Regions from separate parts of the Homo sapiens genome. Here region 1 is linked to region 2. The links come from fine-mapping of genetic effects on gene expression. A gene starts in region 2. The other region holds a variant in brackets. All regions are shown on one strand. Distances are from middle to middle. Region 1 overlaps ASTN2 (astrotactin 2). Region 2 holds the start of ASTN2 (astrotactin 2).

Region 1 (5,377 bases), 710 kb after region 2:
GAGTCTAAGATTCCTAAGGTATATACAACTGGCAATATAAAATGGGCAGCTGGGTATACACCAATCTGGTGATCAAAAAGAAGGTAAGACATGAAAAATACAGTTTGGTATGTAGCTGCATACATGATTGAAGTCATAGAAAAAGATGGTATCGTCCAGAAGAAAAATAAATGTTCCCTTTTGCAATTTGTTTTCTTAAGCTACTTTCCTGCTGCCATACCTTGTATTATTTCTGACATTTTATTTAGAGACATTTTATTTCATTCAGAGAGGCTGACTATGCTGCTCATTTTTAGGCAGCTTTTACTTGTGTAAAATGTTATGGGGCATTGAAGAGTAGTTGTAGTACATATTAAATAGGCTGGAGTTAATATGCCCATTTCATTGAGGAGAATAAATAGGCATAGTCGCCAGAGCAGAAAGGAGGAATACACACTTTCAGGGTTGTTGCTTGAGCATTTGCACCTTACATTTAGCTAATTAGCCTTCTATGCAGGGTCTACGGTATATTTGCCTATTTGTATGTGGCCTTTCTTCCAGTGTATCAATTAATGGAAGTTTCATTCTTCTATATCCAGTCCCTGAGTCTTGGATCAGGCAAGGTAATATGCATGTCTAATGCCTTTCCATCCTTTCAGGCCATGACATTCTTCATTTAACTTCATTTCTTACACTTTTACAGAATCATTAAATGTGTCAAACAAGTTTCATATCTTGGGGTCTGAGAGATTTAGAGATTTATTACTAGTTTTAAGTTTAAATATTAAACGTCATTTCACAAAACACATGGCTTTATTCATGTGGTTGCTCAGAACTTACAAAATTTTCTTTCTTTTTTCTCTTCTTTTTTTTTTTTTTTTTTTTTTTTGAGACGGAGTTTCACTCTTGTTGCCCAGGCTGGAGTGCAATGGTGTGATCTCAGCTCACCGCAACCTCCACCTCCTGGGCTCGAGTGATTCTCCTCCCTCAGACTTCCCCGAGTAGCTGGGATTACAGGCATGCGCCACCATGCCTTGCTAATTTTGTATTTTTAGTAGAGACAGGGTTTCTCCATGTTGGTCAGGCTGGTCTCAAACCCCCGACCTCAGGTGATTCCCCCCTCCTTGGCCTCCCAAAATGCTGTGATTACAGGCGTGAGCTCACTGCACCTGGTCTGAAATTGTCATTTATCGTAATATGAAATTTCTTTCAATATTTAACTCTAAACATCTGTTGTCACTCAGAAGTAGTGGGATGTACCCCCACCCAACATTTGCTTCAGATGTTGAGGCTGATGATACCACACACACACACCAAGAAGATATGAAAAGATGTATCACTCACATAATGAAGCTTTCTAGGGAGAGCAGAGGGAGCTTCCAAACAGGTCCAAACATGGTTTGAGAAAGCAGGGAAAGGAGACTGGCTTGGATTGGGAGGTGAGGGGTGTAGGGTAAGGTTGGGGAGGTTCTCATATATTATCTGGGGCTTGCATGGATTGAGCTTCCCTCTGGCACCAAAGGTAGGCCTACCTAGGCTTCCCTATCAGTTTTCCCAGATGTGAAGCTGAAGAAGAGGGAGTAAGTAGAAGAATTTGAAAGTTGTTAGCAGTCAAGTACCAAAAATGGAGTCAGAATCTTTATTACGATTCATCCCTGATATTTGACTGATGACTGAAATGTGGCATGTTTCATTTAATTGAACTTGAACTTGTTTAGGTAAAATAAACCATTATGGCTTTCTATGAGGCCTGCAGCCTGAGGCTGGTAAGGGAGGTGAAAGTTCCATTAAATGCCTTGTACAAGAGCCCAATATTATGTATTTTGAGATGTGAAATGAATGCCTTAGTCACTATCAATAATTTCTAGACTACTGAAGGGGTTAAAGTGTTAATGAGGCCTTTTATTGTGGATTTATTGTGAGTAGAAATGACCTTGACTTATACTTTGAGTATAAGTATATATATATGAGGCAAGAGAGTCACAGAGTTATTTAACCCAAAGAGGCAACCTTGGATAGAAAACTGTTTTTGCTGCTATTGGCTGGAGCAGATGAGCAAATCACTGGCAGTGGTTCAACAGTCTATAGAACTGTGCAGATGTTGGTCAGGGTATTCAGTGCTAAAAGGACCGCATAAAGTTTGGCCAGTTGTGCTGACTTGGGTCCTGTTTCATTATCAGGGATGTCCCAGTTATGGGCTAAAAATCAGGAACTTTCCAGCAAGCTCCATCACATACAATGGTAGTGATACCATCTATAAAGTGGAGAAACTCCCTTTACTCTTCACTCTGTTGATTGCAAGGGCTTCCACAGATATCCAAAGGGTCTGGGAAGGGGGATGACTTTTACCAGCACCATGGTATTTAGCAAGGGGCTGAGGGTGGTGGTGGGAGACTTTTTCCTATAGGTGAAATATGCCAGGTTTGGCTCTATGCTACAGCAAGGAAACCTCAGTGGCTATGTTGAACTTTTAGGGTGTGATTTCAAGACCCAAGGGATAATGGGCAGCTGGTATGGAGAGTCACAGGCTGAGGGCCGGTGACAACCAGCCTGTTTCCAGGAGAGTCCAATATGCAGCCAGCAATTGCACTCTAATGGCATATAGCATGGGGCTGAAGGGACAGTTTATGGCACAAGATGCCTGTGGGCAACTTAGGGCCATCAAGTGTGGGCCAGAGACTTCAGGAATCATGGGAGGAGGTTGCTAAAGCCTTTAAGTAAAGGACTCTCAGGGGTCACTAATTGCAGTGCCTGTATTATAATTCATAAGTGAGCTTAAGTAATAGTATAAACGGGTTTAAGTAAAATTTGTAAATGAGAAATATGCTGTCTCCAGAACTCAAAATAGACTAAAACATATTGGGCTTTTAAAAAAATTGCGAATGCTGTTTCTGGCAAGTGTCAGGGATAGAATGGCCCTCAGCTAAATAGCTTTCAGGAAT[T/G]TATCCAAGGTGGAAGGACTTGGTAATTTGTGTGGGGTAGTGGTCCATCCCTTTTTCGTGAGCTCTTTTATGATTATGACTATATGTGTCCTCAGTGAGTGTGCCAAATGAACCTTCTTGGAGGATGATGTGATCAGTATGATCAGTGTTTACTGTGCTCCTGAAGAAAGTTAAATGTGGTCAAGATCTTGTCTGCAGGCTGTGTGAAGACCTGGCTGTTGTTATCCCATGAGTAGCTGAGTAAAAGGATACTGCATCCCTTTGATGGTGAAGGCAAATTGTGGCTGAGTCGCTGCTAAAATATTAGCCAAATCTATGAATTAAAAGTATTTACCAGTTGTTGATTAAAGTTAGTAATTTTGATAATATTTGATATGGGAGCCTTATTGGATAGAACTTCAGCATTAACATGGCAATAATCTACTGTGAGATGCCATTCATTCTTTCTAGGTTTCTGAACAGGCTACATTGGGCCATTAATGGTGAAGCAGTGGGGATAGTCACTCTTCTCCAAATAGGTCTGGTATATGGGTTTCAAACCTCAAAGACTCTGTTTTAATTTAAATTGGGCCATATTAACTATTTTAACTAACGGAGGAGGGGAAGGTCCATGCCGTCCCATTTTGGCAAGCTGATTTGTAAGTGCCAAAGACTTAATTCAATTTTAATTTATTACTCATTGGGTTAGAGCATCCATGCCCACTATGGGATATTTTAAGTTAATGGGTGCTATGGCTATGGGGGAATTTAGGCAGGGCAATAGTTCTGATTAAGATGAGGCATATCTATTTGTCTTCCTAACATGTCCTAAAATATCCTCAGTTAACTACCCTAAGATTATAGGGGTACTTTGTTTAAATTTAGGGGAATTCCAGGTATAATTTGAAGCCCAATATTAAGGCTATGAAGGGTTGACAACTGGTGCATTTCAGCAAATGTTAAAAGTTAATTCGGAACCTAGGTTGTAGAGGTACAAAAGCCAAATAGTAACCTTTTATCTTGTTTTGTTGTTGTTGCAAAAATTCTTTAATTTTGGATTTCCAATTGGGTCAAATTGTGAACCTCTGTTTTAGTTTTTTGTTTCTTTCCCCCAGTATCCAAGTTTATTTTATTTTCCTTTTGGTGGCTACCGTATATCATTTGGTGGTGGTGTGGGGAGGGGTTGGGGAGGAGGGAAGGTCCTCTCGATCCTGCTCATATGTGTAAGATTCTTCCTCCAGAGTTGCAAATACATATAATCAGGATTAGGTTCTCTCCCGTGCCAACAGTTGCTTTATAGGGTTTGAGGACCCAGTGCTTAAGTTGGCTTTGAAAGAACTCCTTGGCTATAGCATGGATGCTTTTCCCTATAACCCTTAGGATCAGGAATTTTTTTTTTTTTTTTTTTTTTTTTTTGGTCAGGGGGCATAGTGGCATAGGGCATAGGCAGAAGTAGGAAGAAAGGCATTTTGTAAAGTCCTAGTAAACCATCTGCTTTTGGGAGTGTGCACCATAGCATTCAACATGGTCTTCGTCCATGAGTGACTACCAACCAGCCTGCATATTGCATAGGGTATGACTGTTTCTTTTGAGTACGCCATACAATGAGGGCAACACCTGGTTGAGATAAACAACCAAAAGTCACAGGGTAAGAGTCATTCCTCTGAGCCTCGTGACAGTCACAGCTGACACTGGGATCCAGAAACACAATTCAGAGACACAGGTAAGTCTCGACCAAGACACATGACCCAGGGCCACTTTAATCTTGTTCTTAAATGCCACTTTATTCTTGTTCTTAAATGCCAATTATCAAAAATTCCAACTTAGCTGAGCACATCTATAACAGAAGCTTGGTAAGGCTCAGTGAACGCAGTACAAAGCAGCACAGCACAAAGCATGAGCTTGCCAGCAGTGACAAAAAAAAAAAAAAAAAAAAAAAAATTCTAGCCAGCAAGAGTCAGTTAGCAAACTAAAGCAAGAGGAGAGCCCTGCAGTGGTAGTGGTCATCTCCTAGACCCTCTGCTTGTTGCATAAAGTGTTTAGTCATCCCACAGAGGAGAGGTTGAACCCCTTACCCAAAACTTGGTTTAGGTGTTAGGACTGATGTTACATTAGGACCAAATAGATATGAAAAGGTTTATCACTCACACGAGGCTTTTACAGAGAGCAGCGAGTTCTCAAGCAGGTCCAGAAATGGCTTGAGCAGGGAAAGTAGAGGAGCCTGGCTTTTCCTAGTGGCTTGGAGGTAGGGCTGCAGTGAGGATTCTTAGGTGGTTTGAACTTCCACCAGGCACAAAGGTGGAAGCATTTGAGCTTTCTTACTGGCATGTCCAGATATGGGGCGGAAGGGGGAATAATAGGTTTTAAAAACTCAGCCAGTCAGACATCAACAAATGAGTCTGACTGTACTACAAAGTTGTACTAAGATTACAGCACTTATTTGGCGTAGGCTTCTGAGGGGAGAAAAATTTGATATT
Region 2 (5,377 bases):
TTCATTTACTAAGCAGTTGCAAAGAATGCCAAATGCCAACTTTAACCTAGAATGCCCACTCCCTTGTTACTAATCTTTATGGTTCAATTCCAAAGCCACCGCCTCTGGGAAGCTTTCTTTGATTTCTCCAAGTACCTCATCTTAGGAAACACATGTCTGCCTGCCTGCCCATTACCTGAGATATTTATGTGCCTGTCTCTTTCCGGCATCCCACCCCCTCACCCCAATCATTATAAGCTTTCCAAAGGCAGGAGTTGTGTTTATCCATCCCTGCATCTCCATATAGCACCTGGTAGGCACCCTGAATATTTGGTGATGAATGAATGAATGAATGAAAGTGTTGGTCTCATTTGACAGGCCTTTGTACTAGAGGTCCATGAAGGACTTGCACAGACTCTGCCTTACATAAGGGAGCCCTTTTTTCCTGGTGTGCTCTTCTGTAAATGGACTATGTCAGCATATTTGAAGAAAGGGGCATAGAGAATCAGAAAGCCCCATTGCGGTGGATAGTGGCGGATTGTAAGGACACAAAGGAGAGACTGAGGGAGGCAGGGTGACATATTTTGGAGGAGTAAATGAACTAGAGCAGGCATCAGAGAGGCAGGAGACCATTTAGAATTAGAGGACTTGAAAGGCCAGATTCCACCCCAACCTCCACACATCCTTTGGGTTCACAGATTAGTAAACTGAGACAGGAGAAGTATACCTTACAAACCTCACAGGGAAGTAGATCCAACTGTGCTTATGCAGATTTACCTTTTACAGCATCTTTGATGGGTGGGGTTTTCCAAGGTCACTGAGGACAGTGTAATTTAAGGGAAACAGTCAAGGCTTGAAGCCTACTGTTCAAACCTCAGCTCTTCAGCTCATTTGCTATACGACCTTGGAAAATCCCTTCACCTCCCTGACCACCTGATCTCAGTTTCCTCACATGGAAAATGGGAATCATAATATCCATCTTTTTGGATTATGGTCATGTAAAAAAGCTAACATACGTACATGTCTAGCATTTGGAGAATGCTTTAAACACATTAAGTCCAAGGTCGCAAAACAGCTTTTGCTTTTTTCCTTATTTTCAGTGCTCTGCCTTTATCCAACGTTATTAAAAAATATATGATGAGAGAGGAGAAAAGCAATTTATATGAAGGGTTAAAGATAGAAAAGGGGAATGAGACAGAAGAGGGAAGAGCTAAGAGAAAAGTGAATGCATAGAGACAGCACAAAAGGTGCAGATGGGTAAGCTAGACAGAGATGAGAAGTTGCTCACAAATTATAGGAAAGAAGCATTTGTAAGATTAAAGTCAAGATGAGAAGGAAGGAAATGAATGGAGAGATGAAACAGAAAACAGAGACAGGGAAGATGAAGAAAAGTAGGGGAGTGGGGAAGGGGCTGCACGGCACTTGACCCATGCAGAGGTGTCCGCTCCCTGGAGGGTCTCAGGTATGTGGGTCAGAGACAGAGTCAGCCCAAGACCAAAGGGTGCTGAATCTGAGGACCTAGCTCAACTTGAGTCTAGAAAGACTGCAGGTGAAGAATTGGTGAGCACTCCCGTTCTCTGGGACTTGGGCAGAGGATCTAAAAGACCCGGGAGCCAAGGACAGACAGAATAGTAGGTCTCTACCTCACACCCTTTTCAGGAATTTCACACAGAGAGCAGAAGCAGCCAAGTAGAGCTGCTCCAAGCTGGGAGCAGGGATCCAAAATAAAAAAGCGTGAGTGGGCTGGCTTGCAGGGCGGCAGCTAGGGGGCCAGAACAGCCCGGCTTCAGTCAGTTGTGGGGTCGGCGTTAGACGGTGGAGTTCGACGCCCCTCTGTCCATTAGCAATTAGTGCTAGCACAAGGCCTGGATGGAGGGGAGAGGAAGGTTTGCGGGCAGTGGGAGAATGAATGCAGGAGTTGTGGCCAAGTGGGTGGGAAGGGGGCTCTGAGGCTACAGGAAGTTATTTCAGAGACTAGAAAAGGGTAGGAGATTGGAGAAAGGACTTGTTCTTGGGCCTGAGGGGAGACAAAGTTAAGTCTTGGCTATCCAGGGGGCTCCCTATCCCCAAGAAGGCGGGGCCTTGAGCAAGGCTGGGCCAAGGCGCGCCCCCAGGTGCAGCCTCTGGGTTGAGCCGAAGGTGGGGTGAAGCCAGGAGAACTGGGTTGAGTCAGGGGGGCTTGGGGGGGCCCGAGGGGGCCCTAAGTATTAGGAATTTGGGGAGTTTAGGGAGGGGTGTTGTGGCTAAAGAATGCTGTGAGGGCGGAATTGGGGGATCTTGGGAAAGGGGAGGGAGCCACTGGGACTTGCACGAGGCCGGGCGGAGCCTCCGAAACGCTCGGGGTCTGCGGGGGGAGCCGGAGATCGGGGACGGGCGGCTGGGCCCCGGGAGGCGGCGCGGGGGGGCGGTCCAGGGCCGATCGGGAGGCGGAGCCCGGAGCTGGGGGCTGCTGGCGAGCGGCTCTCTCCGCTCCTTAGCTCGGGCGTCCTGGTTCGCTTCGGCGTCCGCCGTCTCCGCAGCTGCCTCCTCTTCCTCCTTCGCCACCGCCGCCACCGCCGCCGCCGCCCGCAGCACCGCAGCCCCTCCCGCCATGGCCGCCGCCGGCGCCCGGCTCAGCCCCGGCCCCGGCTCGGGGCTCCGGGGGCGGCCGAGGCTCTGCTTCCACCCGGGGCCGCCGCCACTGCTGCCGCTGCTGCTGCTGTTCCTGCTCCTGCTGCCGCCGCCGCCGCTGCTGGCCGGCGCCACCGCCGCTGCCTCGCGGGAGCCCGACAGCCCGTGCCGGCTGAAGACCGTCACGGTGTCCACACTGCCCGCCCTGCGGGAGAGCGACATCGGCTGGAGCGGCGCCCGCGCCGGGGCCGGGGCTGGGACCGGGGCCGGAGCCGCCGCCGCCGCCGCGTCCCCGGGCTCTCCTGGCTCTGCCGGCACCGCCGCCGAGTCGCGCCTCCTGCTCTTTGTGCGTAACGAGCTGCCGGGGCGCATCGCGGTGCAGGACGACCTGGACAACACCGAGCTGCCCTTCTTCACCCTGGGTAAGGCTGGGCGCCGGCACGCGCTAGATCCCAAGGAACCCCGAGCCCCTGCGTCATGCCGGACGGGTGGGGGCGCCCTGGGGATCCCTGCCCGGGGCTGCCCCGAGTGGGGTTGGCAGAGGGTAGAGGAGGGGCCCAGAGGTCGCACAGGTGGTTGGAAACGAGCATGTGGGAGGAGGTCCTGGAGAGCGCGCGGCGGGAGCCTGGGGGCGTGCCAACCCTCCCGCAGTGGGAACCTGCCCCTCTGCCTCTCAGTCCCGACCTGGAGCTCTGCTTGATCCATCCCGGAAGCCGGAGACCCCATTCACTGAAGGTGCTCTGGCTAGGGGCCGGAGCATCCCAGATCCTAAGCCAGTTTCAGGTCGAGCCTCCCACTTCTCCGGGTACCGTCACTGGCCACCCGCCGTCACCGCCCCCTCGCTCTCGCCTCGGAGTTGCGGGTTCTGCCCTTCCAGATGGATTTTCATGAGAGTAGGAATGGAGTAGTTCCGTGTGGAATCGCTCAACCCGCAAAAGCGTGGCTTCCGCATGGGCTGAGTGACCTTGGCCAAGTCGCTTCCCTTCTCTGAGCCTCAGTTCTGGCCATCTGTGAAATAGGGCTGGAGAGACTTGAGTGGTTGCTGAGAACTGGGATTCCGACTCCGAGGTCTCCACGTTTAGAGCCTCCCTCTACCCCCGTTACCGCCTTCCCTTTCTACCCACCTCCAGGCAGAGAGCCGGTTTGTCCTTGCAGCTCACTCCCTGGGCTAATAATAATTACTTAAAGGCAAGAAAAAGGAGAGGAGAGGAGATGGGTGTGGGTGGGGGGCTCCAACGGAAAAGTTAATCAGAAAAGTTCGCCAGCAGCTTGCTGCCTGCTGGTTCCCTGCGCGAATCCCGGAGGAGTCGGCCCTTCAGTGGAGCTGTGGGAAGCGCAGCTGATTTCCCACCCGGGTAATTGATAGCTTAATTATCTCGGAGAGCGTTTACAAAAATGTTGTTCCCCTTAGCTCTCCCGCGCTCGCTGCTTGCTCGCTCTCCCCTCCCCTCTTGGGGGCGCGGGGCCTTATTGGTTGTCGGAGTCTGGCCAACAACAGCGCCCGTGAGGCGCCAGGGGCTCGCCCAGACCCGGAGCTCTTCTTCCCCGGGTCTTTTCCTCGGCGGGATCCGCCTCGGGCACCGCAGGTGAGGGGCCTTCCAGGTGAGAACCTTTACGATCCCTGAACTTCCGAGGTTAACTCCTTGCTCGCCTGAAAAGACCCACAGAATAATCAGCGGACTACGCTCCACTCTCCTGGTAGCCCTGATATTGTTAAAAGTATTTTTGTGACCCACTCCCCATCCTTTCATGCTACCACCTCTGGGGATTTGAGCGAGTGCCAGTGGTTCTCCCGCTCTGAGCTTGAACCTCGGGGGTCGAGCCCCTGTACCCACCCTCGCAGGCTGTAACCTGAGCGTGCCGAGCGTTCCGGGAGGAGAGGCAGCGGAGCGTCCTGCAGGTTCCTCGGGGACTCCCCGCGGCGGCGCTTCTGGGGTGCGACGCACCAAGCACACACACACAGACACACACAAACCAGTAGCTCTTCCCACGTGCACCTGTGGGGCTGCCCATGTCCGAGAAAGGGAAGGAGGGTGGAGGTGGTGTTCCTTAGAGCGCCGCCGGACTAACCTCAGGCTCACAGCTGGCTCTTGCCACCTCCCCGTGGGGAAGGGTCTTTCTAGAGACACAGAAGGTATCCCTTCACTACCACTTCCATTCCTGACCTTCTCCCTTCATCCTTTAGATCTCTCTACTCCGGGGTACTCTGAGAGATGAGGGGTGGAAATCCTCCCGCCCCCCAAACGGCCATTCAAGTGAAGGGATGAGACGGTCCTTGGGTATGGCCTGACTTGGCAGTGAGGACCACAGAGCATTTCAAGTCTTCGAGGATATGGAGGACCTGCTCCAACCATCTGTATAGGTGCCCCGGGATTCCTGGAACTGACAATCTTTGCCATTTTTAACTTTGGCTTTCAAACAGGATGGGTGCCTGTGAGCCTGGGACAAGCTGAGTGAGGACCTGAGCGAGGAATTAGAAGTCTTGATTCCCCCAGGACCCATGTGTTGCTTGAGAGTCTCCTGGCAACAACCTGCACATGGAGACTTCCCCCTCCTCTGATGCACGGTCCCTGAGCCTGGCAGCTTGGGACCCTCTGCCCCTTGGAGAGCACGGGGCTGGCCTCCTTGGCAGCGCTGAGCCTTTTGGATGCATGCGGGGGATTGGGTTCTTGCCTCCTCCTTTTCCCCCTAGCGCCCTGGGCTGGCAGCTTTAGGCGCTCTCAACGGGGATTTGGCTAGCGAGGTAGTCACCAGATGGCTGGGTATAGCAGGAGCTGTGTAGGGAGAC

Evidence for each region. PIP is the estimated chance that this variant, and not a neighbour inherited with it, causes the effect.
Region 1: its variant is the best candidate, but not a certain one, in a credible set for the expression of ASTN2 in whole blood (TOPMed, PIP 0.86).

Annotation. Positions count from the first base shown.
Region 1 is chr9:116,706,225-116,711,601 of GRCh38, reverse strand. All of the region lies in intron 16 of ASTN2 (astrotactin 2), which reads left to right. Among named protein-coding and RNA genes, the nearest start is that of TRIM32, 22 kb to the right of the region's middle. The variant T/G (reference allele first, on the strand shown) is at 2,922.
Region 2 is chr9:117,412,131-117,417,507 of GRCh38, reverse strand. ASTN2 (astrotactin 2) reads left to right here and starts at 2,451. Exons shown (of 23, transcript NM_001365068.1): 1 at 2,451-3,011. The coding sequence starts at 2,570.